Linked DNA regions of Homo sapiens. The protein of the gene in region 4 purifies or fractionates together with the protein of the main gene of each other region. This does not show direct contact. Each region holds a gene or a part of one and is shown on either strand. Other genes may lie near its edges.

What was found.
Region 1: the proteins of PI4K2B (region 4) and TMEM248 fractionate together in Homo sapiens (co-fractionation; one large-scale study listed by BioGRID). This does not show direct contact.
Region 2: the proteins of PI4K2B (region 4) and TMEM184C fractionate together in Homo sapiens (co-fractionation; one large-scale study listed by BioGRID). This does not show direct contact.
Region 3: the proteins of PI4K2B (region 4) and DDX60L purify together in Homo sapiens (affinity purification with mass spectrometry, with the first as the bait; one large-scale study listed by BioGRID). This does not show direct contact.
Region 5: the proteins of PI4K2B (region 4) and ZDHHC9 fractionate together in Homo sapiens (co-fractionation; one large-scale study listed by BioGRID). This does not show direct contact.

What each region holds. Positions count from the first base shown.
Region 1 is NC_000007.14:66,926,462-66,932,291, forward strand, and holds part of TMEM248 (transmembrane protein 248), read left to right. Parts: intron 1-1,298; exon of another isoform or gene 1,299-1,316; intron 1,317-4,153; exon of another isoform or gene 4,154-4,401; coding exon of another isoform or gene 4,402-4,407; intron 4,408-5,830.
Region 2 is NC_000004.12:147,614,966-147,621,531, reverse strand, and holds the start of TMEM184C (transmembrane protein 184C), read right to left. Parts: upstream 4,136-6,566; 5' UTR 3,576-4,135; coding exon 3,453-3,575; intron 1-3,452. UniProt on the Homo sapiens protein: Possible tumor suppressor which may play a role in cell growth.
Region 3 is NC_000004.12:168,357,531-168,363,360, forward strand, and holds part of DDX60L (probable ATP-dependent RNA helicase DDX60-like), read right to left. Parts: intron 3,682-5,830; coding exon 3,619-3,681; intron 747-3,618; coding exon 617-746; 3' UTR 1-616.
Region 4 is NC_000004.12:25,249,837-25,255,666, forward strand, and holds part of PI4K2B (phosphatidylinositol 4-kinase type 2-beta), read left to right. Parts: intron 1-708; exon of another isoform or gene 709-803; intron 804-2,484; coding exon 2,485-2,639; intron 2,640-5,228; coding exon 5,229-5,429; intron 5,430-5,830. UniProt on the Homo sapiens protein: Together with PI4K2A and the type III PI4Ks (PIK4CA and PIK4CB) it contributes to the overall PI4-kinase activity of the cell. This contribution may be especially significant in plasma membrane, endosomal and Golgi compartments.
Region 5 is NC_000023.11:129,835,563-129,841,392, reverse strand, and holds part of ZDHHC9 (palmitoyltransferase ZDHHC9), read left to right. Parts: intron 1-5,830. UniProt on the Homo sapiens protein: Palmitoyltransferase that catalyzes the addition of palmitate onto various protein substrates, such as ADRB2, GSDMD, HRAS, NRAS and CGAS. The ZDHHC9-GOLGA7 complex is a palmitoyltransferase specific for HRAS and NRAS.

The DNA.
Region 1 (5,830 bases), on a different chromosome or scaffold from region 4:
GTACAAGAATTAGCTGGGCGTGGTGGCACATGGTTGTAAGCATGCTTACAAGCTACTTCAGCTACTCAGGAGGCTGAAGCAGGAGAATCACTTGAACCTGGGATGTGGAGGTTGTGGTGAGCCGGGTTCGCACCACTGCAGTCCAGCCTGGGTGACAGAGCAAGACTCCATCTGAAACAAAAAAAAAAAAAAAGAAAAGAAAGAAAAATGGACAAAGAACCTTGGCCTTTCTTTAAAATGAAAAAACAGAAAGGAGGAAAGATAGAGGTTTTAGCAAATTGAATTTTCATTTAGATTGATTTCGAACATGGAAATCCTTAAGTTAACTTTCTCATGTACGAATCAAATACATTTGACAAGAGGTCTGTAGTGTTTTTTCTGCGTGTGATTACATACCTGAGTGTGATCCTGGGGAGTACATGACACAGCCTTCGAAACACTGCCGTTTGGACTTTTGTGTTGTTTGGTTACAAGTGCTGTTTTTCAAACATGTCCCAGTCTTACACACTGAGTTTGGTTACAGAAAGGTTTCATACTGAACTATTAGCTTTTGTTTGATCTTGGCATCCCTCATGACTTGTTTTCTTAAAAATTAAGCCCCAGATTATTAAATTTTAATATGGGAGTACTTTTAATTTTGGTGTTTAAGATGGTTGGCAATTATTTAAAAAACTAAAGAACAAAGATAAATTATTTTCCATCTTGAGACTGTAGTGAATTTTTTTAAGAAGCGGGGGGGTTGAACGTTACCATGGTTTTATATCATGATTTTGAAAATGGAACGATGCATTCATTAACAACCGTAAGTGAGGAGAAATAAACGGGAAGTCTGAGTTTTAGAAGTAAGTCTGGTTCCAGACATGTAATTATGTCAGCCTACATTCCTTTCCTTTTGTCTTTATGAGACTACTGATGTTGCCTAAACTACACGTTTAGCAACTAAAACTATGCTTTCTCTTGTAATTTCTTATTTGATCTTTTTTTTTTTTTTGAGACAAGGTTTCTCCCTGTCACCGAGGCTGGAGTGCAGTGGTGTGACCATAGCCGTGGCTCACAGTAGCCTTGAACTCTTGGACTCAACTGATCCTCCTGCCTTGCCCTCCCAATTAGCTGGGACTATAGGTGAAACCATGCCCAGCTAATTTTTTTTAATTTGGGTTTTGTTTTTTTTTTTTTTTAGGGACGGGGTCTCACTGTGTTGTCCAGGCTGGTCTCGAACTCCTGTGCTCAAGTGATCCTCTGACCTTGGCCTCCCAAAGTGTTGGGATTACAGGCATGAAACACCATGCCCAGTCTCTCTTTGGTTCCTTTTAAACGTGAGTTATTGTGAAAGTCTGTTCTACACTGTGAATTGTATCACATTAAGAAACAAGACACTATTGGCAGAAGACTGTGCCAGTCTTTGCTTCATACTCTTAACTGATGAATGAGTGCTGAGATGGGAGGAATCCTGCTAAAGAAATGGAAAATAGGCTGAGCACGGTAGCTCACACCTGTAATCCCAGCACTTTGGGAAGCCAAGGCAGGTGGATCACCTGAGGTCAGGAATTCAAGACCAGCCTGACCAGCTTGGTGAAACCCTGTCTCTACTAAAAATACAAAAATTAGCTAGGCCTGCTGGTGGGCGCCTGTAATCCCATTTAGTCAGGAGTCTGAAGCAGGAGAATCACTCGAACCCAGGAAGCAGAGGTTGCAGTGAGCTGAGATTGTGCCATTGCACTCCAGCCTGGGTGATGAGAGTGAAACTCAGTCTTGAAAAAAAAAGAAACTAAGTTAAACATTTTAAACTTCAAAAAAGTTGATCTCTTACTTGTGTCTTTGTTAAAATCAGTGACTAAAATGCACTTTGTATATCTATGGCATGTGAGTTGTTTTTTTTTTTCACTTTGGCATTTGACTTGAAACTGTCTTATCAACCTTGGCATTGTGATTGATAGCATGGCTTTTGGGGTCAGATGAATTAAGTCAGAATCCATTTCTGCCATTTATTTGCAGCATGACCTAGTACAAATTACTTAAGCTCATTTGCTTCAGTTTTCTCATCTGTAAAGTGGGAATAGTAGTATCTATCTAGCAGTGTTGCAAGGATTAAAAAATATGTTAAGCGCTTGGCACGGTGCCTGGGAATGGCATGTTCTAAGTGGTAGCTGTTAAGAATGCTCTCTTCTCACTCCTTCGTCCTTGTCACCTGGTTTTTGCCTCTATCACCCTAGTGAAAGGGGTTTTGCTTACATCACTATTGATGTCTCGATTGCAAAATTATATGGATGCTTTTCTGCCTTTTCTCATTTGATGGGATTGACTCTTAAAAAAATTTTTTTTTTCCTTTTTATTTTCATTTTTTGAGATAGGGTTTAACTCTGTCTCCCAGGCTAGAGTGCAGTGGTGCCATCACAGCTCACTGTAGCCTCAAACTCCTGGGTTCCGGTGATCCCTCCACCTCAGCCTCCCAAGTAGCTGGGACTACAGGTGTGCACCACCACACCCAGCTAAATTTTGTATTCTTTGTAGACACAGGGTCTTCTTGTGTTTTCCAGGCTGGTCTCGAATTCCTGGGCTCAAGTGATCGGCTGGCCTCAGCCTCCCAGAGTGCTAGAATTATGGGCAGGAGCCATTGTGCCCTGCCAGATTGACTTCTTTATGCAAACCTATATCATTTATTGGACCGAAGTAGAACTTAATGGTTAATGCATGGGCTCTGGAGGCCAACTGGATTTGAATCCAGGTTCACTTCCCGTGTGATCATGGGCACATTAGCTGACTTCTATATGCCTTAATTTCCGTATCTGTAAAATAGAGATGTTTTAGGGATCATACACAATAGGTGCAAAACTCTTAGAGCAGTGCCTCTCTCAAAAAGTAGGCAATGACGGTAGACGTTATTATTGTTAAGCACCTTCCTGGTGTCAGGCACTGTCCAAGGTAGGAGGAATGCAGAAACAATATCATGGAAATGAGAGACAAATTTTTTTTTTTTTTTTTTTTTTTTTTTTGATACAGACTCTTGCTCTCGTGCCCAGGCTGGAGTTCAGTGGCTTGATTTTGGCTCACTGCAACCTCCGCCTCCCGGGTTCAAGCGATTCTCCTGTCTCAGCTTCCTGAGTAGCTGGCATTATAGGCGTGCACCGCCATGCCCAGCTAATTTTTGTATTTTTATTAGAGATGGGGTTTCATGTTGGCCAGGATGCTCTCAAACTCCTGGCCTCAGGTGATCCACCTGCCTCGGCCTCCCAAAATGCTGGCATTACATCTGTGAGCACCCGGCTCAGACAACAATTTAATTTGGCTGAGGGTGCAGGGAGGCAGTGTCAGTGGGGATGGAGTGAGAGCTGCCCTTGAGAGACACTTAAAATGTGGAAACGATAGGACTTGGTAACTGGTTGTAGGAGAGCCAGAGTGTCAAGGATGACTGGCAGGAGCTGGGCGCAGTGGCTCACGTCTGTAATCCCAGCATTTGGGAGGCTGACGCGGGAGGATCGCTTGAGCCCAGGAGTTTGAGACCAGCCTGGGCAACATGGCAAAATCCCATCTCTACAAAAAATACAAAAATTAGCCAGGAGTGGTAGCATGCACTTGTAGTCCCAGCTACTTGGGAGGCCAAGGTGGGAGGATCGCTTGCGCCCAGGAAGTCAAGGCGGCTGCCATGCTCATACCACTGCACTCTAGCCTGGGCACCAGAGCCAGACCCTGTCTCAAAAAAAAGAATGACTGGCAGGGATCACTAGGTAAATGACGGTGTTTTTCCTTAGGGAAGGAGCCAGTTTGGTGCCTTGGGATAAGTTTTGGCCTTGATGGCCTTTGGGTCATCTAAGGAGATAGCTCCAGTAGGTGACTGTTTGGATCTGGAGGTGAGTAGGTACATAAAATGGGATTAAGGCATGAATGAGCGTGTCCCCCTTGAGCAGAGGCCCCAGCTGGAACTTGGGAACACCAGCTTTTGAAGGATCCTGAGAAGGAAGGGGTGGCCAGATGAATGTTAAGAAAACCCGGAGTGGAAACTGGGAGAGGATCCACCCCACTTCTGTATCAGATGCTGCAGCAACATGAGTTAGGGACTGGAGCTCCAGCTTTGGACTTAGCAGCCCAGAGATTACTGGAGACCTTGAAGTTCTCCTGTGTCTTCGTTGCTTCTCACTTGTCTCTCTGAAGGTTCATTCTGCCTGCACTGCTTTGCGGTGGGGCAGGAAGATGGTTTCTGCGCAGTGCTTGGGGCAGCTGGGTGCTGGAGCTTGCACAGGGTTTCTTTGATACCAGTAAGTGTCTTCAGCTCTAAGTGTTGGATAATCTGGCATCGCATCGATGACTGTTGTTTACTAGGCTCAGGGTTTGTAACCCCGGCCTTAAAGCTCTTTGAGGGTCTCAGACATCACAGGATATTTGAGAAATGCTACTTTCTGCTACATGAAGGTGAGTTTCTGTCATTCTGTCTTAGCACAAGTCCGATGTATTTCCTTTGGTTGGCGTAGAGAGCAGGCTTGCTTCTCCCATCCTCTCTTCCTCAACTTTCAGAAACTTCCCATTTAACCTAAGGTAGAAAATCTCATTTAAGATGAATGGTGGGCCTGGTGTGGTGGTTTGTGCCTGGAATCCCAGCACTTTGGGAGGCTGAGGCAGGTGGATCACTTGAAGTCAGGAGTTTGAGACCAGCCTGGCCAACATGGTGAAACCCCATCTCTACTAAAAATATCAAAATTAGCCGGACGTGGTGATGTGCACCTGTAGTCTCAGCTATTTGGGAGGCTGAGGTAGGAGAATCGCTTGAACCTGGGAGGCAGAGGTTGAGCAGAGATCACACTGCTGCATGCCAGCCTGGGTGACAGTGCGAGACAATATCTCAAAAAAAAAAAAAAAAAAAAAAAAGAACAGTTTAAAACTACAATAAAGTTAGTTTAAAACTTGGACAAGTAGCCATGTGTACATATGCGGGCTTTGGAGAGAGGGAGAAACTGAAAGGCTTCCTGTGTCTGTGGCATAATGAATGTTAACTTACTTTTTTTCTGATAAAATGTTATTAAGTTGCAAAATTACATTTTTTTTTTCCACCATGTTGGCCAGGCTGGAGTGCAGTGGCATGATCATAGCTCACTATAGCTTTGACCTCCTGGGCTGAGCCAGTCCTCCCACCTCAGACTCCCAAGTAGCTGGGCCATTGGTGTACACCACCATGCTTAGCTAATTTATTAAAAAATTGTTTTTTGTAGAGACGGGGTCTTGTTGTGTTGGCCAGGCTGGTTTCTAACTCCTGGCCTCAAGCAATCCTTCCATCTCAGCCTCCCAAAGTGCTGGGATTACAGGTGTGAGTTATTGTGCCCAACCAGGAGGCCTTCCTCCTTTTTTTTTTTTTTTTTTTTTTTTTTTTTTGAGGCAGAGTCTCGCTCTGTCACCCAGGCTGGAGTGCAGTGGTGCTATCTCGGCTCACTGCAAGCTCCGTCTCCTGGATTCATGCCATTCTCCTGCCTCAGCCTCTCAAGTAGCTGGGACTACAGGCGCCCGCCACCACACCTGGCTAATTTTTTGTACTTTTAGTAGAGACGGGGTTTCACCATGTTAGTCAGGATAGTCTCGATCTCCTGACCTCATGATCCACCCACCTTGGCCTCCCAAAGTGCTGGGATTACAGGCGTGAGCCACTGCACCCATCCGGCCTTCCTCCTTTACTAGCTGCTTTCCTCCCCTTATATTAGGTTGGTACAAAAGTAATCGTGGTTTTTGCCATTATGTATTGGTGAAAACCGCGATTCCTTTTGCACCAACACAATTAACTGTGTTTTTGTTAACTCATGTAATAAAAAGTAAGCATCTCCTCCCACACCTCTCCCTTTCACCTGAA
Region 2 (6,566 bases), about 120 Mb from region 4:
ATAATTTTTTAATTTTATGTTTACCTCTAAATAATTTATTCAAATTTGAGACACATTGATGTAGATACCAGTAATATTATTCTTAATCTTTATCAGCCATGAGTTGAGTTTTTGGGCTCACGAAATGAGGAGGAGATAAACAGATTTTTTTTCATGGGTAACTTTAGGAAAGAAGAGAGGAAAGAAAAAACCCTTAAAGACAAGCATCCAAGAATAAGTTAACTCTCCCTCAGCAAAATGCTTCAAAACAGAGAGTGGAGATGAATAGGAGAGAGTGCTTTCTGGGCCAGGTCTTCCTGAGGGGAGAGAGTAGAACTGACCTAAGGGCATGAGGTAAATGTGCTGAGGTTAAAAAAAAAAGTGTGCTGAGGTAAAAAGACTAGAGCAGCATGCACATTCACTTCAGGTATACATGGTCAGCCAAGTGAGTGGGAAAAATAGTTTAAACAGTGCAGATGGTCACCCTACCATTCCAATAAATGGGTATATGCCCCACCATGGGCATGGGATGAGCTTCCAGAACTGTGAGAAAATAAATTTCTGTAGTTTAAGCCACTCAGGCTATGGTATTTTCTCACGGCAGCCTGGGGACACCAAGATAAACTCTCACATTTGTATCTGCAGCTCATATCTTTCTGAGCATTAGATGTGCATATCCAACAGCATATCTGACATGCCTATTGAATGTCTCTTATTAAACTAAATGTCCATAACAGAACTCAATTTCTCTCAAACCTGTTCCTAACCCTCAATTTTCTATCTCAGTAACTAGCACCACCATTTACACAGTTGTTCAAACAAAAAACTTCAGAATCATCTTTGATTTGTTCCTTTCTCTCACTGCTTCTCCTCTGGAATCCAATCTTCCTGCTACGTCTTGTTTGCTCACTTCTAAGGATACTTACAATTCAGTTTTCCATTTCCACTCCTGCTATCCTTACCGGGGCCATAAACCATCATAGCCCAGGCACCCAACACCTCTCACTACCATAAAGAGCTTTCTAACTTCCCTTCACTTCTGCTTTATTTTCCATAGCTGGTAGAGTGGTCTTTTGAAGTTATGCAATTAGACTGCCCTGCATGGTAACTTCTCAGATCTTTTCTGGTTTCCTCCACAGCATTTTATACAATTTTATTGATTTGTTTTTGTTGGTCCCTTTTGTCTCCACCAAGTTCTATGGAGGTAATGTTCTCTCATATAGTATACAAAGCCTGATTCATCACTGGGACTCAGTCATTTGGGCAGAAAGAGGGGGAAAGAAAACAAAGTAAAATATGTATCGTGGTAGATGGTGGTAAGTCCTATGGAAAAAGTAAAGCAGAGAAAGGAATATGAAGAGTTGGGGTGGGGGGAAGTTGACAATGTTAAATAGAGTAGTCAGGTGACATTTGAGTAAAGACCTGAAGAACATAAAGGAATGAGAATAATATCTACGGAAAGGAAATTCTGTGAAGGGGAAACATCGTGCAAAGTTTCAAGGAGGGAGCATGCCTGGGATTTTTGAGCAAAGCCGTGCAGTGGAAGCCTAGGACTTGAGGAGAAAAAGTCAGAGGGGGATCAGGTGGGAGTGGTGTCAGATCATGTTGGACCTTGATGGCCACAGTGAGGAATACTGGCCTTTACTCTAGGACTAGAAGTGATTTAAGATGACACACATAATGTGCCAAGTTTTAACTGGTTACTCTGGCTGGTGTGTTGAGAAGAGTCCAAGCAAGACATGTTGGGAACTTGGCTAGGACAAGTACAGACTACAGATTCCAATTTTTCTTAAAAGCTAGTGGTACCTAAAAACTACATTTGAAACTAACAACTAAGAGAAGTCTTAAACTGGACTGATATTATGCATATTATTAACCTTTAAAGTGGTTCCTATACTATACTCCACGGAAATATTTCAAAGTAAGAAAATCCCATTTGTATTAAGATGCTTATACCTAAGTTTTTGTAGACAAATTGTGGAAAGAACCTAAATATCTAACAAATGGGAAATATTGAATGTAGCAGAATATTACATGGCCATTAAAAATAACTATATGGGCCGGGTGCGGTGGCTCATGCTTGTAATCCCAGCACTTTGGGAAGCCGAGGTGGGTGGATCACAAGGTCAGGAGTTGAGACCAGCCTGGCCAACACCGTGAAACCCCGTCTGTACTAAAAATACAAAAATTAGTTGGGTGTGGTGGTGGGCACCTGTAATCCCAGCTACTTGGGAGGCTGAGGCAGGAGAATCGCTTGAACCTGGGAGGCAGAGGTTGCAGTGAGCCAAGATCGCGCCACTGCACTCCAGCCAGGGCGACAGAGCTAGACTCTTTCTCAAAAATAAATAAATAAAAATAAACAACAACAACAACAAGTAAGTATATGGGGCTGGGTGCGGTGGCTCACACCTGTAATCCCAGCACTCTGGGAGGCCGAGGACAGATCACCTGAGGTCAGGAGTTTGAGACCAGCCCGACCAACATGGAGAAACCCCGTCGCTACTAAAAATACAAAATTAGCCGGGCGTGATGGCGCATGCCTGTAATCTCAGCTACTCGGGAGGCTGAGGCAGGAGAATCGCTTGAACCCAGGAGGCGGAGGTTGCGGTGAGCCGAGATCTCGCCATTGCACTCCAGCCTGGGCAACAGGAGCAAAACTCCGTCTCATAAACAAACAAACAAAAAACTATATGGACTATGCTAGTATGGGAAAGTCATCAGAAAATAATTTAGTGTAAATAGAGAACACAAATGTATATTAAATACAGTTTATGTAAAAATCATTTCCACAATAAAGAAGGGCCTAAAATAGTCATGGTCTTATTATAGTTCTTGTAATAGGTGTTCCTCTGTAAAAGTACTTGGTGGGTTTTATTAACTCCGAATTTAAAGTTCATTATATAATATTTATATCTGAGTTATTTACCTTGGGGTTTTCCAGCTTGTAGTACATTACTGATGTCACAATAAGCATATGACATCAAAAAATATATATAAGGGACTTTTTGCAAAACCTTTGTTGGGTAAGAGCTAATTTCCACAGTAAAAACAGACACCAAAGTTAAAACAACTAGAACGCTTTGATTCAAGAAGCTAGTTAAAAGCTAATAAAATTCAATACATGGTTTTCAAGGTAGTTTATTTGACCTAGTTTCGTCCAATGTCTGAACAGATCAGATTTCAGCAATAAAATTACCTTACTTTCAGGGAACTGATGAATACTTGCAAAACAGTGCCCTTCTAAGCAGCTATATTAATATATTCTATTTTCTCGACCCGGTCCCACCTCCACCTGTAGCATGACTTGAAGAACCGTGAACAAGAAATTAGACAGGTTTATATCCTAAGAGTAGGCTCGTTTACATTAGATGGTTTTCAGGACTGTCAGGGCAGAAATGGGGTAAGGGTGTCTCTTTCCCAACCATAGATGGGTAGAAGAAAGTGTACAGGCTGATGGTGCAGAACCCTCTTACCTCCAGTTTCTGTAATTCCCACACGCATAGGGGAACCGCAACCACTATTGACACCAGGTAGATGACCGCTACTAAAGGTCGAATCCACTGTCTCCAGTTCCTCCAGGTACAAGTGCAAGGCATGTTTTCGCACAAATCAGATCCGGTTAGCAAGGGAAAAGATCTCGAAAAGATTGTAATGGGGAGCCCTGTTCTCTGGCTGTTTTGTCAACTCGCATACTACGGAGAAAAAGCTGTCGGGCGACTTTACGAACAGCTCGAGCCGCCTCCTGGACCGGCGCTGTGTCTTCTGCTGCTGCTGCTTCTGCAAATGTAGCCTCTCAGGGTGCTATTGGCGAGCAGTGCAGGCAACATCCTTTCTTCTCCACCCCGCATCTACCCGGTTGTACTGCGGTGGAATCCCAGGCAGAGCCGCTGCCCTCACCTGGGGATCGCCCTGAGCTCTGCCTGTACCATGGCTTCCAGGAGAGCAGCACAGACCAGGAACCGGCCTCTAGGGACCCTGCACACTCCGGTTCTGTCTCGCAGCTGCCTGCCCACTCGCTCTTTTCTTTGGGGATCGAGCTTCCTACCTCCCGCACTGGCAGGCGTCTCTTCAGTCGATTCCGCTAGTAGGTAAGGCCCCAGGATCTCCTCATTCTTTCGCACGGGACCTCCCCTACAGCGGAACCCAAGGCCAAACCAAGACTTTCAGCTCTTTTCCGCTTCCGCCCCTGCTGTCTGAGGCAGGTGATTCGTCGTCAGCGCCAAACTGGGCCCGCCCCATCCGACTCACTTTGCGCCCTCTGATTGGTCAGCTGTGGGGGCGGGGCTGCAGGATTGCGTACTGGGGTTAGAAAGAAGAGCAGGTGCGTGGAAGTGGGTGGAATTGCCGCAGATGGTCCAGCGGGCTATTGCAAGGATTCTGGAAGCTGCGGGAATTATTTGAGGACACTTGAAGCACACCTACTACATTCTTCTGCTGGCGTTATTCCAGTTTAAAGAAAGCTTGGGTAAGGGGCGGTTACTTCAGAGTTGGACTGGAAGAGAGAAGGCCCATCTCTACACAAAACATCCCCTATTCAATCTAGAGTGGATACAGAAGCCCGCTGGAGTAAGAAGACAAGGAAGAATGGGAAACCTCCACCTAGTTTTCTGTCAGTTGCTAGAATCTAGGGGCTAGGCCGCTTGGTTATTTCTGGATCCTACAGAAGGATCATTCTAAAGGTAGCTTCATTTTAGAATTAACCGCAAATAGGGAATGTCCCTTCTACATTTGGAACTTGTGTTAAAAATTTGCACTCATTTAAGTTTTAAAAAGTTGACATTCCATCTGACAAAGGAGTTTCATATGCTTAAAGCCTTTAGCTAAACCAATAGAGTAAACAAATATCTACTACTCAATTACATATACAAATGCGTTTTATATTGTAATTGTAATTTTCAGGGGGACAGGCACTGTACTAAGTTCATTACCTACATTATGTAAGTTGTTCTGCACAAAAATTTTGAGAGGTAGGCATTTTTCCACTTTACAGATAAAAAAGTCAAGTGGCTGATAAATTTGCCCAGGCTCACTGAGCTAGTTAAGTGGTAGTGTGGAGATAGCAACCTTGGTCTTTGTGACTCCAAAGGGCATTATATTTAAGCATTTGACCTGCTAGTACCTGCCACCTGGGGAATTTCCGCCTAATGACCATACGGATAAGGAGGCTTGTAACATTGAGTACACCTAGCCCAGGAGTCTCACAGAGACACCTAAGGAATATTATGAGCCCCTTTTTTGGTATCGTCTGTTTGGACTTGACTTCACTGCCTACTTCTCAGTTGTTAACATTTGTATTTTACAACCTGACCCAAACTACTTTCTACCGGAAAAATAGGCCTTATGTTTGTTCTTCCTAAGCTTACTTTAAAAATGGAAATTAAGGCTGGGTGCAGGGGCTCATGCCTGTAATCCCAGCAGTTTGGGAGGCGGAGGTGGGCGGATCATGAGGTCAGGAAATCGAGACTATCCTGGCTAACACAGTGAAACTCCGTCTCTACCAAAAATACAAAAAATTAGCCAGTTGTGGTGGCGGGAGCCTGTAGTCCCAGGTACTCAGGAGGCTGAGGCAGGAGAATGGCGTGAACCCGGGAGGCGGAGCTTGCAGTGAGCCGAGATCAAGCCACTGCACTCCAGCCTGGGCGACAGAGCGAGACTCTGTCTCAAAAAATAAATAAATAAATAAATAAATAAAATTAATTAAAAAAAATTCCTGATCATTAAATTAATGCTTGCTCTGTTGTTAAAGTTCATAAAAAAGAAGAATAATGAAGAGAAAGTTAATTTTACTCTACGGCCAAGTATAACTACTCTTTACTTGTTTGGTACACAGTAGAGGCTATCTTGGATATGCCGTATGCGTAGATTGTCTCTGTGCTTTCAGCTACAGCGTTTTTGCTGCCTATAATCTTTCCCATTCTTTCTCATGGGCAAACTTTTTTTGCCTAATTTGTGAGACCTTCCTTTATTTTTGTTTCCCCATGTATTCTTACAGCATTTATATGGTATTATACTCATTTACTTATTTGTCTTGTTTAGATTTTGAATTCCTAAAGCAAAAATCTAAATCCATTAGAAAAAAGCAAAAGAGAGAAGAGATGAGACAGATGCACAAATGATTTCACATACCAGTTTGCGAACTGGAATTCTTCTATGGTGAAATTTCTTCAGCTCAGCAGAGAAATTAAAAACAAAATTACAGATTGAGTATGCCAAATCTGAAAATCTGAAATTCAGAATGCTCCCAAATCCAAAACTTTTTGAGTACTTATATGATGCTCAAAGGAAATGCTCCTTGAAACACTTCAGATTTTGGATTTTCAGATTTGAGATGCTCAACTGGTATGTATAATGCAAATGTTCCCCAATCTGAAAAAATCTGAAATCCAGAACACTTCTGGTCCAAAGCATTTCAGATGAGATATATGAATTTTTCATTTAGTTAAATTTCTTCACTCTTAAGGACCATGTTTTATTTTGAAATTGTCTATCCTATTTTTTAATATGATAATAGATAGTAGTTGTTCTTCAGATATTTTTACTTTGGAGAATAAAAAGTTGATAGCTTTATTTGCCTACCATTTGTTTCA
Region 3 (5,830 bases), about 140 Mb from region 4:
CTTGTCTCTCTGTTAAAGGCACTAATTACATCCAAGGAGCTCCACCCTCATGACCTATCATCTCCTAATACCATCACATTGAGGGTTAGAATTTCAATATAAAAATTTTGGAGGGGAGGGCACAAACATCCAGTCCACAGCAGTGAGTTTCTTGTAATCTCAGAAGTCTTCTTACATAACTAAATTGTTGTTCAGAATTGATTTGGGTCCTTTGTGATTTATTGATCATTAATTTAAAATTCAATTAACTTGGGGATGTATTGAAAACTTGACAATGTGAAACTAATTTTGCTATACATTAACTACTAAAAAAACCACTACCGTTCATTAAGTCACCACCCAATCCCAATCACTTTTCTTACATTATCTCATTTAATCCTCAAAACAACTAGAGGTATTCATTTTTACTCCGGTTTTGCCAAAAATGAAGTTAAAGCTCAGATATATTACATAACTTAAAGTCATTCAGTTAGAAAATAGCAGAGCTGATATCTGAGTTTAATTCTGTTTGACTCCAAGACAAACATTTTTTCCATTTCATTGTGTAAGCTTAATTATATCTCTCCTTGCAAAGGGATAAATACCACATAATCAGACTTGAAAGTTTTCCATGGTGTTATTCTAAATGATTTTGACTCATTTGAATTTGCATTTCTTGAAGTTTCTCATAAAAGGTTTGACTCAATTGTTTAAATGCCAGGACTACATTGTCACGCTTATTTTCACATAGTTCACTCAAGGAGTCACTGTATAAATGATAATAATAATAAAAAAATAATGAGCCCACATTTTTATAACAATCAATATTATTAAAAGGTTAGCAGAAGTAATTCCCCCCAAAATCTATCAGATGTAAATATGGAGAAAAAGTACGCAGAATATTAATAAAATGCACAGTTATCTTGTAAAATCTTTACAACATACATCATGTATCTTGAGAAAGATAAAGATATATACCTTCACACAGTTCTTCTTTTTTTCTTTTTTCTTTTTCTTTTTTTTTTTTTTTTTTTTTGAGACAGAGTCTCGCTCTGTTGCCCAGGTTGGAGTGCAGTGGCGTGATCTGATCTCGGCTCACTGCAACCTCTGCCTCCTGGGTTCAAGCAATTCTCTGCCTCAGCCTCCTGAGTAGCTGGGATTATAGGCACCCGGCTAATTTTTATATTTTTAGTAGCGACAGGGTTTCACCATCTTGGCCAGGCTGGTCTTGAACTCCTGACCTCGTGATCCACCCGCCTCGGCCTCTCAAAGTGCTGGGATTACAGGCGTGGGCCACCGTGTCCGGCCACAGTTCCTCTTTATATTACACCTAAACTTGCTCTGTGAGTTTGTAAGACCACAGAATTCCATATTCTTAGAACCTAGAAGTGTTATTCAACTTCTTTTCTTCTCTTTACACATCTCATGAAAGCCATATGGACTTCCTAATATAGGGACAATTATTTTTAAAAACCCACAGTCACCCAATTCAGTGGAAAAAAATTCTGTCCCTATCCATATATCTTAGGATAGAAGCTGGGGTGAATGAGAGGAGACATAGAAAAGTGAGTCCCTCAGCTACCTGACATGCTATTCGAGCATTGCAATCAATTGGGATTTGACATTTTGCCATCCTTTTCGTTTTCATGCTCCACCTTATTCACTCTAGAGCAGAGTTTCAGTTTTTTACTAGTCCTCAGTGGCTGAATATTAGGAATGATCACATCTTTATCTCTAAGTCTGAAATTCCTCCAGAGTTTCAGACATATTATTCTATTGACTGCTGAACATTTCCCCCTGGATGTCTTATAGACAACACATGTGACATTTTAAATTCCAACTCATACTTTTTTATTGTCAGTTCTGAAGTCATCATCATGTATTCCCTACTTTCATTAACACTATCATTAACCAAATTAGAAACCCAATTTGTCATAATATCTCTTTCCCCATTGCATGAATTCCTCCTCTTAAATATTTCTCCAATCCTTATCATTCATTTCTACCACCACTGCCTAATTCAAGCCTTCATTTTCTCTCACCTGGAATATGGGTATAGCCTCCAGCTTTAGCTCCCTGCTTTCAGTTTCTCTACCTCTTGAGTTAATCTATATACCCTGCCAGAATAATATCTCTAAAACATAGATCTATGTCGTACTCATCCTTAGAAACTCCCCTTTGTCTACCATTTGTCTCACCTTTGTCTACCATTTTAAATCCAAACTTCATTGCCTAACAAATAAGACCCTTCGCATATACAACCAAATTCCTTTCAAAGACTCCACACTCACTTCTCAGCATTTTCCCCAGTCCCTGTCACAACCTCCACATTCTGTACTCCACCATCATTAGCTTGGGGCCTATCCCCGAATACATCAGGACCTTTAATATTTCTGCACATTTGGATACACTATTCTCCCTGCTTAAAATCTGACTACCCTAATTATTCTACTTAATTATCCTAATTAACTAGAATTATATTAAGTATAATTAATCTACTTAATGAATTTTCACTTCTCCTTTAAGACCTGATTGGAAATTACATCTTCTATAATGCTTTTTCCGATTATAGTAGCATTAATCATAAAGTTATTTATGTTATCTTAGTATTTTGTGTATAACTCAATCATAGCACTTACCACATATGACTGTCTACAAGAAAGTTTCTCCCATGACATTGAAGTGCCTGGAAGAGTGCCTCTAACACAGTAAGACCTTGATACTTTTATAATTGATAAATGAATGAAGGAATTATTTTTCCTGTTTAAACTCTTGAGATACATTTAAAATCTCCAAAGTTTCTCAGGCTACTCAAAGAGGTTGTAGCTTTGGTAGCTATAAGCCACTTGAGGAATCCTTTATGTAGAGATACTCCAAGTGGGCAAAGGAGGGTCATCCTAAGACTTTCACTCTTTGTAGAAAGCTTCCCAAAGGGTCAGACTCGGCTCAGACCAAGGAAAACCACAAATATGTCCTCACTAACAAGGAACTCTAAATAAATATTCTCCTTCCAAAACTGAATTTACGTGAAAAACCACATACACTTGATAAAGAAGTAAGGACTAGAGGTAAGGAAAATGGAGCTAGACAAAAACTGGATGACCAATGGAGCATAGAGAAAGGAGTGCCCACATAGAGTTCATATTTGCTTGGGTCTCTGTTGAGCATTGGGCAGATGAACATAGGAAATCAATGGGAGCTGCCAGAGTCTGGGAAAGGCACTGGGTACGAGAAAGATTTAACTGCTTTGAAGTGGATATAAACCAGAGACCTACTGAAGTCATTTATCTGACTCAGTGTGACTGCTCAGCATTTGTAGAAATTGAGTATAGTGAGAATATAGCGAGGCCTGGAGATTTATGAAGTCATGAGGAAGAGCCTTCCAGGCTCTGATCCGAATGAAATTCAATTACAAATGGATTTGAGATGAATCTTAATACAAAAAAAACAGCGTGACAGTGTCCTGAGGAATGGGTCTACAGAGCCTTTGGATAGCTGAATTGTAGAGAACCTGGGAGGCTCAATAGTATCTTCAGAGTGCTCCTTCATGAGAATCACAAACTTACACAAAGGAAGAGCTATATGTTTGCTAAACTATCATTAAATAATTGAGAAAATCAAACTCAGCATGAAACATACCTGATAGCCTGAATGTTGAATGCAAAATCTTTCAAACACTTTAAAAGCTGTCCCATACGCATCCTAAAGAGAACAACATTTCTTAATTAAAAAGTATAAAAACATAAACATAAAAGAATTAACTCAAACTTTAATAGTGGTCTGTCCATGGCAGTTAATTTATCTGCCAAATGCACTCCCAGTTAAGCATTCTATTGTATTAATCATAATGAAATTGAGAGGCATAGGTAAAAACCACAAAAAAAATTATTAAAGAGATAATTTGACCATTATCAAAGGGGGAGGGTGAAATATAAAAGTAAAGCATAGAAGGGTCAATGAGGACTACAGATTAAAGTGAAAACAAAACAAGTTGATAGACTAATATTATTTCTACTTACTTCTTCTACTTTCTTAGTTCTATTTCTACTTTCTTAGTTCTTCATAACTAAGAACTAGACCTAAGAAAAACAGATGTAGCTCAAGATTTGTCAAGAATAGGAGAACATTGAACAAGATGCAAGATGCCTCTGCCACACTGTCTCTCCTACCAGAAATGACTGGGAGTCAGGGTGGCTTCTTCCTACAGGAAAATGGTATGCAAAAGACTTCCAGCGGTTTCCACAGCCATCACAGATGCCAGCAGTTCTTGCTACAAGAGAGTCTCCCAGTCCTCACAGGCCCAGAATCTATTTTGGAGAGTTGCCAGAAGTTTAAGTAGTTTCGTTGCCCCAGAGTAAGAGCCCACATTGTGTATCTCCTCCTTCATGACCTAAGCAGCTATGGCATGATGACATTTTGAAGGCCAGTAGCCAATCTCTCTCTCCATCCCTGAAGCCCCACTATCATTTCACATCCAAAGCTATGTGGCAGCCCACCACCCACTGGGGAAAAGGCAGACATGCACAGCAAGAAAACCACTGAACAGGTGGCCAGGCCACTGCACCAGTGCATACTCGTGCTGCGCAGCCAGAAAAACCACCATGCCTGCACCAACCCATGCCAAGCCTGGCAGCCAGGGCAGAGGTGGCCCCACCTCCTGAAAAGACTGCGGCATGCCAGTCAGCCCAGCATGCATTTGCATGTGCCTGGCCTGACAGCCAGTTCAGCAGAGGCCTCACCTTCCCAGGGACACTGCCACACAGCCAGCAGTCCCACTACACATGCACTTGGCCCAATATCCAGTTCAACAGCAGCCCGACCTCCCCATAGACACTGCCACACAGCTGGCCAGCCCACATATGCCTGCACTCAAACCAACAGCAGTCCAACAGTGGTCTTACCTCCTCCAGAGACACTACTGCACAGCTGGCTGGCTCACTGCACCCACAGATACCCAGCTCAAGAGCCAGCCTGGTGATAGCCTCACTTCTCTGGAGAGTCCACCATACAGCCTGCTGGCACACTGAACCAAAATATTCCTGCCCCAAATAACCAGCTCAGTGCCCCTGCCCCCACCAAAACCATACCACCAACATCTGTAGCCTATCCTCCTGTAGATATCATACAAAAGAACCAAAAAAATCGTGGAGCTAAAGAATTCAATGCATTAAGTTTTAAAAGAATGAGAGCTTTAGCAACAGACTAGATCAAGCTAAAGAAATAATTTCTGAATTTGAAGACTGGTCTTTTGAAATAACCAGTCAAAGAGGGAAAAAGAATAAAAAGGAATTAAGAAACCATATAGGACTTATGGGACACCATTAAATGAACAAATATTCACCTTATAGGGGCACCAGAGGGAGAAGTAGAGAGATATTTTGTTATTATTATTAACAAAATAATAGCTGAAAACTTCCCATGTCTTGGGAGATATATGCATCTAAGAAGCTCAAAAGTCCCCAATTAGTTTCAACCCACAAAGATACTCTCTGAGGCACATTATAACCAAACTGTCAAAAGTCAAAGACAAAGAATTCTAAATGCTGAAGAGAAAAGCATCAAGTCACACATAACGGAATCCTCATGAGACTATCAGCAGATTCCCAGCAGAAACCTCACAGGCCAGGAAAGAATGGAATGATATATTCAAAGCGCTGAAAGAAAAAGAAAAGTCAGTCAAGAATACTACATCCAGGAAAGCTATCCTTCAGAAATGAAGGAGAAATAAAGATCTTCCCAGACAAGCAAAAGCTGAGGAAATTTATCACTACTAGTCTAGGCTTACAAGAAATTCTTAAGTGAATGCTACAACTAAAAATGAAAGAATGATCATTACTATCACAAAAATATT
Region 4 (5,830 bases):
CAATCTCGGCACTTTGGGAGGCCAAGGCAAGTGGCTGGGAGGTGGAGGTTGTAGTGAGCCGAGATCACGCCACTGCACTCCAGCCTGGGCAACACTGAGCACTGAGTGAGCGAGACTCCGTTTGCAATCCCGGCACCTCGGGAGGCCGAGGCTGGCAGATCACTCACGGTCAGGAACTGGAGACCAGCCCGGCCAACACGGCGAAACCCCGTCTCCACCAAAAAATACGAAAACCAGTCAGGCGTGGCAGCGCGCGCCTGCAATCCCAGGCACTTGGCAGGCTGAGGCGGGAGAATCAGGCAGGGAGGTTGCAGTGAGCCGAGATGGCGGCAGTACAGTCCAACCTCGGCTCCGCATCAGAGGGAGACCGTGCAAAGAAGAGGGAGAGGGGAGAGGGGAGAGGGAGAGGGAGAATGTTTTAAGAGCCATAAAAAAGAACGAGATCATGTCCTTTGCAAGGACATGAATGGAGCAGGAGGCCATTAGCCTCAGTGAACTAACACAGGAACAGAAAACCAAACAACCACGTGTTCTCACTAATAAGTGGGAGCTAAATGATGAGAACACACAGACACATAGAGGGGAACAACATATACCAGGGCCTTTCAGAAGGTGGAGGGTAGGAGGAGGGAGAGTCAGGAACAGTAACTAATGGGTACTAGGTTTAATACCTAGTGATTACCTGGGTGATTGCTTAATACCTGAGTGATTGCTTCTCTGTCTTTTGGCTAAGATCAAGTGTAGTATCTGTTCTTACCAGTTTAATACCTAGGTGATGAAATAATCTGTACAACAAACCCCCAAGATAGAAGTTTACCTATGTAACCTGCACTTGTACCCTTGAACTTAAAAGTTACAAAGAAAAAGTATTACTAGCTTCTCTGTTAGGTATAGAGAGGGACTGGGTGAGAGAGGGAGACCAGTTAGGAGGCTCTTAGAATAATCGAGGTGAGAGCCGATGGTAACCTGAATCATGTGGAAGGAATGGAGATGGCAAGAGGTGGTTGGATTCTGGGTATTTATTTAAGGTAGAGCCAATACAACCTGCTGATTGGATGTAGAGGGTAAGCGTGTGAGATCATGGATGATTATAAGGTTTTTGGCCTAAGCAACTGGAAGATTTGGAGGTGCCAGCAACTGCAATATGGGAAACGTAGGGATGAAGCCTTTGGGAGGCGTAAAGGTGAAGAATGAAGTTTTGGGTAGTGAAGTTTGAGATGTCTATTACGCATCCAAGTGGAGATGTTGAATACAGTTGTCGAGTTTAGGGCAGAAGTCCAGGCTTGAATTAGAAATTTGGGAGTCACCAGTGTTGGTAACGGAGAGAAGAGGACTGTGAATGGAACCTGGGCCATTCCAAAGTTAAGTAGTTGGTAATAAATGCAGTGCTGGGGGCTGGTCGTAGTATTTTGTGATTGCTGCTTATTTCTTAATGAAATAGGAAGCTAGATCCTCTCCTGAGAGAGAGGATGGAAGAGGAGGTGTTGGGAATTTGAGGAGAGAAATTGGCTCATGTGCATTTCTTTAATTCCGCTGCCCTGGTGCAGGCATGGAGTTGGTAGACAGTTGGGTTTAACCAGGACTGGGAGTTTTGCAGGTGACCATGATGAAGGGAGAAAGAAAGAGTTGATTTTGTGAAGACCCAGCATAATTTAAGCTGGCCAAGGAGGAGGGAAGCAAGGACATGAAGGGAGAGAATTCCAGTGACGTGGGGGAGCAGTCCTTTGTAGGTTCTAGTAGGGCAGAAGAATATTTGGACTCGGAGTGCCAGAGGGACTGAACTGGGAAGACAGGAGGTGCTTGAAATTGAAAGTGTGGTGAGGTTGCAGTTACTGGTATTGACAAAATCCGAGATATGATTGGGGAACTAGAGGATGAAGTAGGATGGATGATAGAATCATTGCAGGACCGAAGTTCAAAGAAATGAGAGGTATTAGTATTATTTTTAATGAACAGTTAACTTCCTCCCATGTTGTTGTTGTTGTTGTTGTTATTATTATTATTTGGACGGTGTCTCGCTCTTATTGCCCAGGCTGGAGTGCAGTGGCGCAATCTCTGCTCACTGCAACCTCCACCTCCCAGATTCAAGTGATTCTCCTGCCTCAGCCTTCCGAGTAGCTGGAATTACAGGTGCCCACCACCACATCTGGCTAATTTTTTGTATTTTTAGTAGACACGGGGTTTTGCCATGTTGGCCAGGCTGGTCTTGAACTCTCCTGACCTCAGGTGATCCACTCGCCTCAGCCTCCTAAAGTGCTGGGATTACAGGCGTGAGCCACTGTGCCCGCCCCCGCCCCCATGTTATTATTTGGAAATTTAAGAGAAGTGGGGGTTGTTAGGCAGTGGGGGGAAGGAGGATTAGAGCAGTCTATACAAATCTTGATTACATTTTTCTGTACCTTATATCCTGATACCGGCAAGCTAATCGATATTACAGGTCCATATCATGAGCATTCTCATAGCTGGTATTTCTTCTTAATGCAGTAACTATTGGTACTTCAGAGATGAATGCATTCTTGGATGACCCAGAATTTGCCGATATTATGCTGAGAGCAGAGCAAGCAATAGAAGTTGGAATTTTTCCAGAAAGAATCTCTCAAGGTTCAAGTGGAAGTTACTTTGTGAAGGATCCTAAGAGGGTGAGAATTTCACAGACCTATTATATGTAATGGAAACTTTGGTAAATACTAATTTAAATATGAAATCATTGTGAGTTTCTAAAGATATTTTCCTATTAAGTCTGATTGTAACCTCTTTTCCAAAACAAAGGTCAGTTTTTGTTTGTTTTTTGAGACGCCCGGGGTCGCCCTCTCTTACCCAGGCTGGAGTGCAGTGGTGCAATCATAGCTCACTGTAACCTTGACCACCTGGGCTCAGGCAATCCTCCCATCTCAGCCTCCCAAGTAGGTGGGACCATAGTTGCGTGCCACCACACTGGGCTAATTTTTGTAATTATTTGTAGAGACGGTGGTCTCCCTATATTGCCCTGGCTGGTCTTGAACTCCTGGGCTCAAGCAAACCTCGGCTTTGGCTCCCAAAGTGTTGAGATTACAGGTGTGAGCCACTGTGCCCAGCCTCAATGTTTTGCTTTTACTAAAGCACTCTAGTGCTTAGAAACAGAGCTAATCAGTTCAAGTCACAGTTTGCTATTTTGTTATTTTATACTTGGTTTCAAGCATTTATTGAATACCCACATTCAGCTGTAGCCTTTTTGAGTATATATATTCACAAGTCCTTATCTTATGGAAGTCTATAACCTTAATAGCCAAACACGGTGGAAGGTTAAACCTTCAAAAGTTGTTTAATGTCATTTCCAAAGTACTTGATTTTTTTTCAAAGGTATGTGAATACCTTTTCTGGCATTTTACCAGGGGAAGGAGGCTTAGCAATCTGAAGCTTGAAAGTATTGGAATGTGAAAGTGAAATGAACCACAGGATGATTCTAAAGTGGAAAAGAGAAGTTGATGTGGCACTTTGCTCCACTTAGTCTAGAATTTTTCAAAAATATGTTATTTTTTCTAAAAGCTTTCTGAATGATGCATAATGAGCAGTTCTTTTCTCCAGGGGAATAACGTTTATAATTTCACCCAATTTTTTTGGCAAAGATAGAAGTTCTATTTTTAAAATGATTTTAAAGCATAGTCCCTTTTTTAAGATTAAAATGTATTTGAAGGTACTGTCAATCTCTCAATCTTTATTCTAAGCTTGATTTCTTAATTTGATCTTGTTGACTTTTTTACTAGTGACTCAGACCTTATTGCATTATATTTATTGTGTTATAAAGCAATTATATACTTAAAATTATAATAAGATTTGTTCTTGTCTAAGGATAATTCAGCTTCTAAATTGAATATGAGTATATTGTATCAAACAATAAGAGTACAGAGACTTTTAGACATTCATGAGCAAAAAAAGATTTTTTAATACGAGAGAATTTAATCAATTTATTTGTTAAGATGGATTCTCACTCTGTCGCCCAGGCTGGAGTGCAGTAGCACAGTCTCGGCTCACTGCAACCTCCACCTCCCGGGTTCAAGCGATTATCCTGCCACAGCCTCCTGAGTAGCCGGGATTACAGGCGCTCGCCACCACGCCGAGCTAATTGTTGTATTTTGAGTAGAGACGGGATTTCCCCATGTTGACCAGGCTGGTCTCCTGACCTCAAGTGATCTGCTCACCTCCCAAAGTGCTGGGATTACAGGTGTGAGCCACAGCGCCTGGCCAAGAGTTTACTTTAAATTGGTTCCTGAAAAAATAGCTGGAAAAGAATTAGGGTACGAGAATCTGACAGCATGGATGTACACTGTATCTTATCATTATATTTGTATTTTAGAGGTAGTTTTTGTCATTGGATTAGTTAATTTAACAAATACTTGGATGTCCACTGTTCATCAGATACTGTTCTGACTACTGGAAATGCAGCCCTAACAAACCAAGTCCTTGCCTTATTAGAATGTACATTAATGTGGGGAAAGTAAACAGCAAACATGTAATGTGGATATTTAATAGATAGTGAATAATAACACTGTTTGACCTAGAATGGTGGTTTTGAAACATTTAAAAATCAGTGAAAGTCTTTCCTTTTTTTTTTTTTTGAGACAGAGTCTCGCTCTGTCACCCAGGCTGGAGTGCAGTGGTGCGATCTCCGCTCACTGCAAGCTCTGCCTCCTGGGTTCATGCCATTCTCCAGCCTCAGCCTCCTGAGTAGCTGAGACTACAGGTGCCCTCCACCACGCCCGGCTAATTTTTTGTATTTTTAGTAGAGATGGGGTTTCACCATGTTAGCCAGGATGGTCTCGATCTCCTGACCTCATGATCCGCCCGCCTCGGCCTCCCAAAGTGCTGGATTACAGGTGTGAGCCACCGTGCCCGGCCCAGTGAAACTGTTTCTTAACTTGGAAGTCCAGCAATATAAAACAGGTGAAATTAGAGTTAATCTGGTTAAGTGGCATGGGGTCTTGGAGCCTTGCCCCCACCTTCCCAGGGTTTGTCAGAGCACAGTTTGAAAACTGGTCTTGATTTTAGATTGTTGAATAAGAATGAATATGAAAATGTGATTGGAACTAAATCTCTTAATAGTTGAGGTTTATAAATCCTCTTAATAGTTTGGGGATTTATGCCTACATCTGTGGTAGGAAGCAGTAGAGAACAATTTATTAGAATGCATTTTATGGATGATTATCTATATATGTAAAAAGTCTAATAAGATTTTTACTTTTTTGCTCTAGAAAATTATTGGTGTGTTTAAACCCAAATCAGAAGAGCCTTATGGTCAACTCAATCCAAAATGGACCAAATATGTCCATAAGGTCTGCTGCCCTTGCTGCTTTGGCCGAGGCTGCCTGATTCCTAATCAGGGGTACCTTTCCGAAGCGGGTGCCTATCTTGTGGACAACAAGCTTCATCTGAGCATTGTACCTAAAACAAAGGTAAGCCAGACTTTATTTTTAACCATGGACTTTTAATTTACAACCTGCTTATATCTGAATATTTCAGTAATTATTCCTAATGATAGAACCTAAAGTGGAGCCCCTTTTTTGGTAGTAGTCCAAGAGTCATGAGTGACTGGTAACTAGTAAATTGATTGTAGTGTAGATCCACAAAGTACTTAAAGGAATGTGTCTTGTCTCTGTGAGATCTGACGATGCTAACAAAAAGAGGATAAAGAACTAGCATTCAGAAGGCAGGAAAATATCAGGGGATCCAGAGATCCTATTGAAGGCAGAGATAACCAATGTGCTTAAAGACTTGTATTGTCCTTTCAGCCTTTATACAAAATTTTTTTCTTTTCTCTTGTTTTGTTTTTTTAAGAGACAGGGTGTTGCTGTGT
Region 5 (5,830 bases), on a different chromosome or scaffold from region 4:
TATTCTGGGTCCTGTTTCCTTAAGGCTCAGCTCTCAGCTAGCTGGTACAGTGAAAAGCCAACTGAGTTGGGAACCTACAGATTAGTTCCAGCCTCAGCTGGACCACATACTAGTTGTGTGCGTGGCACATACGTGCTTATTAGAAGTGAGTTGCTCTTTCCCTCAAAATCACTCAACGTAAACAGCTCTATATTCTGTGTATGTCTGGTACCAGCCTTGGAGTGATTTTTTTTCTGTGGTGTAATACCTCGTACTCGAGCCACTGTTTGAAGTCTGTGTAGGTCTCGTCTCTAGGGGAGGTGGCCGGCTGGATTCTAGGGCACTGTGGCGTGTCTCCTGGGTGTGCTGAGAATGCTCTACACTCTAGGGATGGGAGCATTGCTAATTGTTTTGGGATTACTGTGAGGAGGCCTTTGAGAGCCAAGAGGTGTGTGTGTGGACTGTAAGCCACACCTGAGGTGAGCGTGCTATGGTGTATGTACATGGGTGACCTGGAAATGGAGGGCTTATGCTGGGGTGTGTCCATGGGAGGTAGGAGGGGGCACCTTGGCCAGCCTAGTGGGGAAGTAAAATGAGCTCTGGTCCCTTGGGGCTCATTTTTGTCCTTCTGTGAGGGCTTCAGGCTTTCCCAGTGCACCCAGAGTGATTTTTGGGCTGCTTTGCCAGACTTTTGGGTGGTTGCAGCTGGCTTGAGTAACAGCAGGGGGAGGGAGATCCAGTTTATAACGGGGCTGGGAAAGTAAGGTCAGAGGAACTCTTTGTTAAAGGTCCTTTTGCTGCTGCCGCCGCTACTGCTGACTTTGTGAAGTGTTTAGTGAAGTCAGGCAGGTTGCTGAAGGCTTCTTATTTGCTTTCCAGTTTGAGTTTCCTGAATGAGTGTGTGTGTGTGCATATGTGCACGCACGTGCTTGTGTGTGGTACCAGTGAGCATGTGTAGTCAGGCAGGCATAAGCCCCTAGCATTAAAAATTGTTTTTCCTTCTCCTCACCCTTCTCTCCAAGTATTCCTTGCCTCATTCCTGTCCTGCTTCTTCTTGGAAGTGCAAAGCTGACATCTGTTCTTTATCATTCTTCCTCTCTTTTTCTCTTTTTGTCCCCACCCCCACCTCCAGGTTAAATTTTTATTACAACTATTCCAAACAGAGATGAGCCTTGTTCCCAGGCTTTGAGTTAGTTGGTAGTTCTGGGCCCAGGAAACCTCTGGTTTGACTGGCCAGGGGTACTTGAAATTTGGAGGTATTGCCATTTGTCCCCTTTTGTATCTGGGAGCCAGCAGAAGAATCTGACTGGAATCTGTTCCACTGAGGCCCCTGCAGGCCTCTGAAGAAAACCGCTGGTGGGATGAAGCTTCTAATTAGCCAAGTTACCATTTGACAGAGGCAGGTTGAGTTTTCTACCATGATGACTTCCCCCCGCCCCAGGTTATTTCTTGCATTTTGAAGGGTGAGGTTATTTGTAAAACTTACTTGAGTACCAGCTGTCTGTGTGAAAGACTAAATATTTTTGAAGATAGGGCTGGAGGAGGGAGTAGTGGGAAGAAGAGGGGAGAAGGAAGTAAATGTGTTAGCAGAGGAGTGGAGGGGGGAGGTGGAAATGTGACCACAGAGGAGAGGACCCTGGTGATGAATACTTTGTACATGTGTGGATGTGCGTGCTTGTGTATGTGTGTGTGTGTCTGTCATATACAGACACATAGACACTTTAGGTGGTGGCTGCCTTGTGCCTAGCCAGTGACAGGTTGTACAAGGTACACCAGCATGCCTCTGAGGAATGAAATCTCCTTCTGGTCGGCCTTTTTCTTTGGCATCTATAATTTCCTGTCCACCACATAGTGGGGGCAGGGTTTGGGGAGCAGAATGTGGGCTGCTTTGTTAGTATTAGGACTTAGCGCAGTGGCTCATGCCTGTAATCCCAGCACTTGGGGAGGCCGAGGCAGGCAGATCACTTGAGGTCAGGAGTTCGAGACCAGCCTGGCCAACATGGTAAAACCCCCGTCTCTACTAAAAATACAAAAATTAGCCCCGTGTGGCTGTTGTGCGCCTGTAGTCCCAGCTACTCGGAAGGCTGAGGCAGGAGAATCCCTTGCACCTGGGAGGCGGAGGTTGCAGTGAGCTGAGATCTTAGCCTGGATGACAGAGTGAGACTCTGTCTTAAAAAAAAAAAAAAAAAAGAACTTAGTGAGGCCTCAGGAAATCAGTTGATCTAGCCCCCTGCCTTCAGGCAGGTGAGGGTGTCTGAATAGACAAATGGTGATCTATTTTCATTCTTACATTGTCTAGGAGTAGAGACTCCACATCCTCTGGCTGCTGTATTTTTACCTTGTGGGAAGATAGTCCAAATCTTGAGGCACATCTGGAGCTGCATTTTAGTAGCAGGGTCCTGCTTGCAGCAGGTGCTTAGGAACAAGTGTGAGTTGATTTATAGCTGCCTGCAGCACAGCTCTGGGCCAGCCAGATGGCTTGAGAAGTCTGGTCAGGCATGTGGGTGCCCCTTAATGAAAAACGCATAATGTTAGCAGTGCTGGCAGATGTCCTTTTATTTTTGGATTATGCCTTTACATATCTTCTAGAAGACTTTTCAAATGAGTGACCTGTAATTTTCAGTGGACACATAGTAGATTGAATACATAAAACAAAAAAAGTTGTCCATCCTGGGGCCAGTTAGCTCTGTATTGTTAGAGTGTTTCTTTTTTTTTTTAATTATTTTTTATTTTTTATTTATTTTTTGAGACAGGGCCTTGCCCCATCACCCAGGCTGGAGTGCAGTGGCATGATCTCTGCTTTTGCAACCTCTGCCTCCCGGGTTCAAGCACTTCTCCTGCCTCAGCCTCCCGAGTAGCTGGGATTACAGACACCTGCCAAATACAAATAATTTTTGTATTTTCAGTAGAGACAGGGTTTCACCATGTTGGCCAGGCTTGTCTCGAACTCCTGACCTCAAGTTATCCACCTGCCTCAGCCTCCCCAAGTGCTGGGATTACAGGCATGAGCCACTGCGCCCGGCCTGTTAGAGGTGTTTCTGAAGAAGCCGGGGGGTCTCTCTCGGGCCGCTGTCACCGAGTAGAAATTTGGCCAAATATTCACTAAGCCTCTTGCAACTCCAAGAACCTGAAATTCTGTATAACTCTGTGTCTGTCTGGAAGACTCAAATACACACAAAAGGAGATTATAGATTACCAGTAGGTTGCTATATTTAAATATAATTGTATTCATGGTAAACGTATTTAAGTTTAAAAGCAGAGTGAAAAATGGTATAATGCTTAAAGAAAAAGGATTTTCTAATTAATTCTTAGGGTGAGGTATTTAAGAAATGTGAGTGTGTATTGCTAGTTTCAGCTTTGAGCACATGAACAATTTTCAGTTCTTTCTGCTTAAGCTCTATCCAGCTTGTGCGATGAACACATAGCTACCAGCTTGGCCTGAAGTGTTAGGACACTGTAGCAGAATGCCACTGACAACCTAGGAGACATCCAGCTACTGAAAGGCTATCGTGGTATTCAGTCAAATTCAACTTCCTGATAAAGTGTGATCCTGGAGAAAGGAACAAGTGCACTGTCTCCTGGAATTGGCTTCCAGCTTTCTCTTTTAGCTTTCTGACCTGGCCACTAGTGGGATCAAGGTCCTCAGACTTCTCTTGTGGCAAGAATGACTATGAGACTCTTGACCCCTGAAGCAGAAGCAGTTTGCTGCTATAATCAGTGCTTATGGTCTCACTGTGTCCTCTGTATATGAAGGAAATCTTATCAAGGCACTGTCAGACCAGGTTCTGTCAGGTTGGTCCCCATTAGAGCTTTTGATGTATATATTGGCAGAAGAGTCATTGAATTGGATGAACTGAAAACAGCTTTGTAACACTGCTTAGTAATCAATAGTAATCAATACAAACAATACTTTTCTAGCCTATCCAAATTCTACCCCTCTTTCAAATTCTTTCTTGAGTCTTTCTTCATGAAAACTTTCCAGTAATTTCTGCATTCATTGGGCTAATTGTACACACCGCTCATTCAACAGATAATCACATGACATTTCTTATAGTTTGGAGCTATATGGTGATTACACTTCTCACTGTTGTTGTCCCCCGCAGCTAGTCTCTTTCAAGGTCAGAGACTATGTTCAATGGCTGTGTAGCCCCCACAGTGCTCTCTACCATGCCTTACATAGAGTAGATGGCCAATAAGTGTTGCTGAATTAAAACATTCTAGATGTACTTAAAATTTAACAATCTTGACCCACAGAATCATAGGATGGTAGATCTGGAAAGGGCTTTGGAGACTATCTCCCTCCTTGTGTGGGGTGAGGAAACCAGGCCCACAGAAGTGAGTTTCCTTTATCAAGATGAGTTGACCAGCCAACGTCTCTATACTGACTCAGGGCTTTTTCTTCTAATTTCGACATTTTATCTCATTGTTCATTGTTACCCTTTGGCTATGGAATCCTGAAGATATTCAAACACACATGCTTTAGTAAAGTGTACATAGTACCAAATACTAGGCCAGCATATTCCAGATTCTTGCGAGCTAGTGTGTGTGTTACCCAGTGGCATCTAGGCTCTTTGGGTCTCCCAAGCTTATGCTCCTAGAAAATGAAGGCATCTTTGCAGAGAACTGATGGTATTGCAGCATGGCATTTCTGGTAGCCTTGCAGGAACAGGGAAGCCTATCAGGAGCTTTGTGAGTTAACAAGGGATCATCACTGCTGTGGCCACTCCTGGTCCCTGCTGCCAAGATGAGGATGGCTTGGAGAAAAATCAAGCAATGTGTGCTCTGTACATTGTTACTTAGTGACTTATCCTGATGAAAGGGGCAGTGTGGGCTGGGCGCAGTGGCTCATGCCTGTAATCCCAGCACTTTGGGATGCTGAGGCAGGTGGATCACTTGAGGTCAGGAGTTCGAGACCAGCCGGGCCAACATGGTGAAACCCTGTCTCTACTAAAAGTACAAAAAGTCAGCTGGGCTTGGTGGTGCACACCTGTATTCCCAGCTACTTGGGAGGCTGAGGCAGGAGAATCACTTGAACTTGGGAGGCGGAGGTTGCAGTGAGCCGAGATTGTGCCATTGCACTCCAGCCTGGGCAACAAAACAAGAACAAAACTCCATCTAAATAAATAAATAAATAAATAAAATAGAAAAAAGAAAGAGGAGGTGTGTCTGGCAGACAGGTGAAATAGAAAAAGCAGACCTGATAATATGAACTTACTAGGTTTGAGGAGACACAAGACTATGTAGACCAAAGCCAAACTTTGACATACCAGAATGTTAGTGCCCACAGTGACAAGGTCCAGGTTCCTGAAGAGCATCCTTATGTGAGATTGGGAAGAGGAAAAAGTGACTATATTGTGCTCTGTAACCAAGAGTGCATTCTCTGGGGAATGACTCTATGGAGGTCAGTCTTGGCTTTATCTAGCTTCGGATTCTGTCTGTGACTTGACTAACCAAATGAGTTTTAGAAAGGCATAGTTGCCTCTTTGGTATCAATCTGTTACAGTACTTAGCTAAACTTAACTTCCTGATGAAGTATGTTCCTTGAGAGAGAGTTCTTCCCAAGAGTTCCTTGGGTTGTATCTCCTGAACAGTTTGCTTTCTTTTTCTTTTCTTTTTCTTTTTTTTTCTTTGAGACGGAGTTTCATTCTTGTTGCCCAGGCTGGAGTGCAATGGCACAATCTCGGCTCACTGCAACCTCCGCCTCCCGGGTTCAAGCGATTCTCCTGCCTCAGCCTCCTGAGTAGCTGGGATTACAGGCATGCGCCACCACGCCTTGCTAATTTTGTATTTTTTAGTAGAGACAGAGTTTCTCCGTGTTGGCCAGGCTGGTCTCGAACTCCTGACTTCAGGT